Linked DNA regions of Homo sapiens: region 2 is linked to region 1. The links come from fine-mapping of genetic effects on gene expression. A gene starts in region 1. The other region holds a variant in brackets. All regions are shown on one strand. Distances are from middle to middle.

The links. PIP is the estimated chance that this variant, and not a neighbour inherited with it, causes the effect.
Region 2: its variant is the best candidate, but not a certain one, in a credible set for the expression of PPIL2 in nasal epithelium (TOPMed, PIP 0.90).

What each region holds. Positions count from the first base shown.
Region 1 is chr22:21,664,230-21,667,130 of GRCh38, forward strand. PPIL2 (peptidylprolyl isomerase like 2) reads left to right here and starts at 1,783. Exons shown (of 20, transcript NM_014337.4): 1 at 1,783-1,902. The coding sequence starts at 1,871. RefSeq lists enhancers at 1,715-2,625, 1,860-2,099, 2,170-2,219.
Region 2 is chr22:21,690,394-21,693,294 of GRCh38, forward strand. All of the region lies in intron 15 of PPIL2 (peptidylprolyl isomerase like 2), which reads left to right. Among named protein-coding and RNA genes, the nearest start is that of PPIL2, 26 kb to the left of the region's middle. RefSeq lists an enhancer at 1-25. The variant GTTTTC/G (reference allele first, on the strand shown) is at 1,671.

The DNA.
Region 1 (2,901 bases):
TCTGCTTTATGGCCGGGTGCGGTGACTCATGCATGTAATCCCAGGACTTTGGGAGGGCTGAGGCGGGAGGATCACCTGAGGTCGGGAGTTCGAGACCAGCCTGACCAACATGGAGAAACCCCTTCTCTACTAAAAATACAAAATTAGCCAGGCGTGGTGGCGCATGCCTGTAATAATCCCAGCTACCTGGGAGACTGAGGCAGGAGAATCGCTTGAACCTGGGAGGCGGAGGTTGCAGTGAGCCAAGATCACACCATTGCACTCCAGCCTGGGCAACAAGAGCAAAACTCCATGTCAAAAAAAAAAAGAAAAAAAAAAAGAAAATTCTACTTTGACCAGACATGTTAATTTAATTTTTTTAGGCAGAGTCACTCTGTCACCCAGGCTGGGATGCAGTGGCCTAATCTTGGCTCACGGCAACCTCTGCCTCCCCAGTTCAAGCTACTGTCTCGGCCTCCCAAGTAGCTGGAATTACAGGTGTGTGCCACCACACCAGGCTAATTTTTTGTATTTTTAGTAGAGATGGGGTTTTGCCATGTTGGCCAGGTTAGTCTTGAACTCCTGACCTCAAGTGATCCGCCTGCCTCAGCCTCTCAAAGTGCTGGGATTGGCCGGGCGTGGTGGCTCACGCCTGTAATCCCGGAACTTTGGAAGGCCAAGGCAGGCGAATCAGGAGGTCAGGAGATCGAGACCATCCTGGCTAACATGGTGAAACCCCGTCTCTACTAAACACACACACACACACACACACACACACACACACAAAGTGCTGGGATTACAGGCGTGAGCCACCACGCCCATCCAGACATGTTACATTTCAGATCAGTGGTTACCCAAGTGGAGATCAGGAACCTGGAGTGCTGGTGACTTAGTACTGGGAGTCATGGGATACAAATGGCATTTAAAATTAGGAGCCTAGGCAAGATTACCCTGGGCCTGAGTGTAGCTAGGGGCCCAAGGTACTGATCTGACCCAAGGGAAGGGTCTGGCAGAAGAGACGGAAGGGATCAGGTAGGGCTTTGGACCTCTAGGCTTGATGGCCACCTGCTGCTGGGCCTCCGAGGGGCCTGGAGGCGGTGGGGACCGAATATGCAGAGAGAATGAGAAGTGAGCGAGTAGAACGAGAGTGGTACATGGCTTTGAAGGCATCTGCCACGGAGGCGGGAAGGGATGGGGTGGAGGCTCATGAGACTTGAAGCTCTAGGAGGACGTTGAAAAAGACCTGAGCGCTGGCCGGGCGCGAAGCCTCAGGCCTGTAATCCCAGCACTTTGGGAGGCCAAGGCGGGAGGACTGCTTGAGCTCAAGAGCTCCAGACCAGCCTGGGCAACATTGTAAGAGCCTGTCTCTACAAAAAATTAACAAATTAGCCGGGTGTGGTGGTGCGTGCCCGTAGCTACTCGGGAGGCTGAGGTGGGAGAATCGCTTGAGCCTGGGAGGTCGAGGCAGTAGTGAGCTGTGATTGTGCCACTGCACTCCAACCTGGGCGACAGAGCGAGACCCTGTCTCGAAAATAAATAAATAAGACCTGAGAACCCAGTATGGGAATGGCCCTGAGCCGTGGCTAGGGGGGTAGACAAGGCGGTCCAGACAGACCCCTCAAGAAGATGGGGCTTCGAGGCTGAGGGAGCTCGGCCCCGAAAAGACGCCTGCGGGAGATGGCACACCTAGCTAGGACCCCATACTGGGCAGGCGATCCTTCCGAGCATGAGCACCTGGCGCTAGCGAACCACAATTCCCAGCACGCCAGGCGCCCGTTTCCGGGGCGCGCCGCGGAACCCGGAAGTGGTCACGGAACTCGGCTGCGGCTCCATGGTCTGAGTTGTCAGCCGTTGTTTTTTCGTGCTCGCTAGTCGCCGCCGCCGCTCCGCCATGGGGAAGCGACAGCACCAAAAGGACAAAATGTAAGTTGAGCCGCAGTCGGGAGCGGCGCTCCACTCTGCCTCAGTGAACCGCCTGTCCCGCACTGCGCGCCGCTCGCCTTCCCTCTCAGCTACTCCCCAGAGCACAGCCCAAAGGTCACTTCCTCCCGGAAGCTGCCGCCCTGTCTCCAGTCAGGGTAATGACCCTCGGGCCGCCGCGCTCTCCCGGGGCCGCGGCTCCGATGACGTCAGCTGCGGGCTCGAGCGCAGCCCGGTTTTCCTTACTCTGGTTCTGCCCGGACCGTCCCCCGTCTGTTCGCGAGTTTCGCCCTTGAATGAGTAGTCTCTACCTCTTCCGTACTTCACGTCTCGCTGTGTTCTGGTTCATGCCTATCAGCCTGCAAACGTGCTGCAGAGCCTTCTAATTTAAAGCAAACCAGGTCGGGCGCAGTGGCTCACCTGTAATCACAGCACTTTGGGAGGCCGAGGCGGGCGGATCACCTGAGGTCAGGAGTTCAAGACCAGCCTGGCTAATACGGTGAAACCCCGTCTCTACTAAAAATACAAAAATTAGCGGGGCGTGGTGACGGGCGCCTGTAATCCTAGCTATTTGGGAGGCTGAGGCAGGGGAATCGCTTGAACCCGGGAGGCGGAGGTTGCGGTGAGCCGAGATCGTGTCACTGCACTCCAGCCTGGGCGACAGAGCGAGACGCTGTCTCAAAAATAATAAATAAAATTTAAAAATCCACCCGTGCCCCGTGCCCCACGTCCCACGTTCCCCTCCCGCTGCCGCCGTGTTGTTTCTCTTAAGAACAAGTGAGAGACTAGTGGCTTCATGCTGTTTTCTGAGTCTCTTGAAACCACTCAAGTCAGAATTTCGACCCCAGAACTGTTGGGCTTCTCAACAGTATGTCACACCGTTGACCACTCCCTCTTTCTGAAGCCCTCCTTTGGTATCTGGGATTTCACCTGCTCTTTGTTTTCTCTCGACTTCAGCGGCCTCTCTTTTCAGGTTCCCAGCGACTTCTTGTTGCTAAATAT
Region 2 (2,901 bases), 26 kb after region 1:
AAAATCAAACGAGTCAGCTGTGCTTAACAGCTGGGCAAAGGCAGCTGGCAGCTATTCGTGCCACTTCCTTGGGGCTTTCATTTCAGGGTTAACGGGCACTTGTTTCCATGAAGGCTGGTATTCTCTTGGCCTCGCTGTGCTGACCTTTTTTTCTCATGCCTAATCACACTTTCCATTCCTCAGTCCCTTAGTGGTCTTTGAAGGGTTTGTCTGTTTTCACTTCACTTTGAAGGGTTTGTAATTGTTTTCAGTTTCTGTCTTTGCTTCTTCATGGTGCTTTTCCTCCTTCCTCACTTTAATCCATGTGTGTTTCTGATAGCCACGTCTGTCATTTTGAGGGTGCATGTTCCCTCTTCACTGCTTGCTGGTTGTTGGTAGCTTCCCTTTCAATTTCTTCTCAGCCAAGGATTGCCTAGGACTGTTGGTTATTTTCAAGTAGGTTGGGTGCGTGGTTTGTTTTTGTTGTTTGGCAGGGGCCAGGGCAGGGAATCATTTTATTATTTTTTATTTCTCTTTGGCTTAACCAGCCTGTGAAACTGCTGACAGATCAGTTGCCACCTTCTCTTTTTTTTTTTTTTTTTTTTTTTTGAGATGGAGTTTCACTCTTGTCACCCAGGCCGGAGTGCAATGGCGGGATCTCGGCTCACTGCAACCTCTGCCTCCTGGGTTCAAGCGGTTCTCCTGGGATTACAGACGCCCACCACCACACCAGGATAATTTTTTGTACTTTAGTAGAGACAGGGTTTCACCATGTTGGCCAGGCTGGTCTCCAACTCCTGACCTCAGGTGATCCACCCACCTCAGCCTCCCAAAGTGCCGAGATTACAGGCATGAGCCACCACACTCGGCCTTCTTTTCTTATTTCTAGTAGTATTTTGTGCTTTCTTGGACAACTGTTGCCAAAGGTTTGCCTATTTTACCGTATTCAAAGATCATTAGACTTTAATTTGTTACAGCTTTGTTTTCCCTTTTGTGATTCTTGTAATTAAAGATTTTCCAGGAGGAGGCCAGGCGCGGTGGCTCATGCCTATAATCCCAGCACTTTGGGAGGCCGAGGCAGGCGGATCACGAGGTCAGGAGATCGAGACCATCCTCGCTAACACGGTGAAACCCCATCTCTACTAAAAATACAGAAAACTAGCCGGGCATGGTGGCAGGCGCCTGTAGTCCCAGCTACTCAGGAGGCTGAGGCAGGAGAATGGCGTGAACCCAGGAGGCAGAGCTTGCATTGAGCCGAGATCGCGCCACTGCACTCCAGCCCTCCAGCCTGGGTGACAGAGCGAGACTCCGTCTCCAAAAAAAAAAAAAGATTTTCTAGGAGGAGCTTGCCTCAGGATGGTTCTTTTACTTTCCTCTTATCTGAGTTTAATTCTGCTTCTAGTTTCCTTCACTGTGTTAGAAATCAGCAAGAGAGGGAACTGCTTGCAGGTCAGAGCTCAGGTCTGCACCGTTGCAGATGTCACATCTGCGGACACTTGTCTGGTGGCCTCGGGTGTGGTCAGACTTGGTGGGCTCAGGAGCGTGTCCCTGCGTGGCTGGGGGGTGCATGTTTGATGCAGTGGAGGTTAAGTCCTGTGTCTCACCAGCCGGGTTGTGGGCTGTGCCTGCCTGCACCACCCTGGGGAGTGCTCCGTGCCGCCAGCGCCGGGACCCACCCCATGTCTTCCATC[GTTTTC/G]TTTTCAGCCTCTCTGGCTCTGCCCTCTGAGGGCTTTTTGAAGGCTCACAGCTGGGGTCTGTCGTGTTCTCCTTCATCCTGACAGTCTTTTTTTTTTTTTTCTTTGAGACGGAGTCTCGCTCCGTCCCCCAGGCTGGAGTGCAGCGGCGCGATCTCGGCTCACTGCAAGCTCCGCCTCCCAGGTTCATGCCATTCTCCTGCCTCAGCCTCCCTAGTAGCTGGGACTACAGGCGCCCGCCACACGCCTGGCTAATTTTTTGTATTTTTAGTAGAGATGGGGTTTCACCGTGTTAGCGAGGATGGTCTCGATCTCCTGACCTTGTGATCCGCCCACCTTGGCCTCCCAAAGTGCTGGGATTACAGGCGTGAGCCACTGTGCCTGGCCAATCCTGACAATCTTAAATGTGGACTTAATTCTTCAGGTGGTCTGTTGCGTTCTATGATCTTGTTGCTTTCTAGTTACCATTTTTTATATTTATTTTCATTTGCTTCTCTTCTCTTTCTGCTGGTTTGGAAATTAGATGTTTTACTTCTGGTCTAAGGTTAAGAAGGACATCTATTTAAAGTCCAAAGTTGGCCAGGTGCAGTGGCTCACGCCTGTAATCCCAGCACTTTGGGAGGCCAAGGCAGGTGGATCACAAGGTCAAGAGATTGAGACCATCCTGGCTAACACAGTGAAACCCCGTCTCTACTAAAAATGCAAAAAAATTAGCTGGGCGTGATGGCGGGCGCCTGTAGTCCCAGCTACTCAGGAGGCTGAGGCAGGACTATGACATGAACCTGGGAGGCGGAGCTTGCAGTGAACCGACATCGCGCCACTGCACTCCAGCCTGGGGGACAGAGCAAGATTCCATCTCAAAAAAAAAAAAAAAAGTCCAAAGTTATGAGGTAGTCTCTGCCTTCCTCCCAGACCAGGCTGGCAGAAACTCTCTCCTCGTCTCATGGCAGTGCTGTTGGCTGTTTTAATTCCACCCCATTTCCTTTTTTCTTTTTCTTTTTTCTTGAGACAGACTCTGTCGCCCAGGCTGGAGTGCAGTGGTGTGATCTCAGCTTACTGCAACCTCTGCCTCCCAGGTTAAAGCGATTCTCCTGCCTTGGCCTCCTAAGTAGTTGGGACTACAGGCACACGCCACCACGCCCAGCTAATTTTTGTATTTTTAATAGGGACAGGGTTTTACCATGTTGGCCAGGCTGGTCTCCAACTCCTGGCCTCAAGTGATCTACCT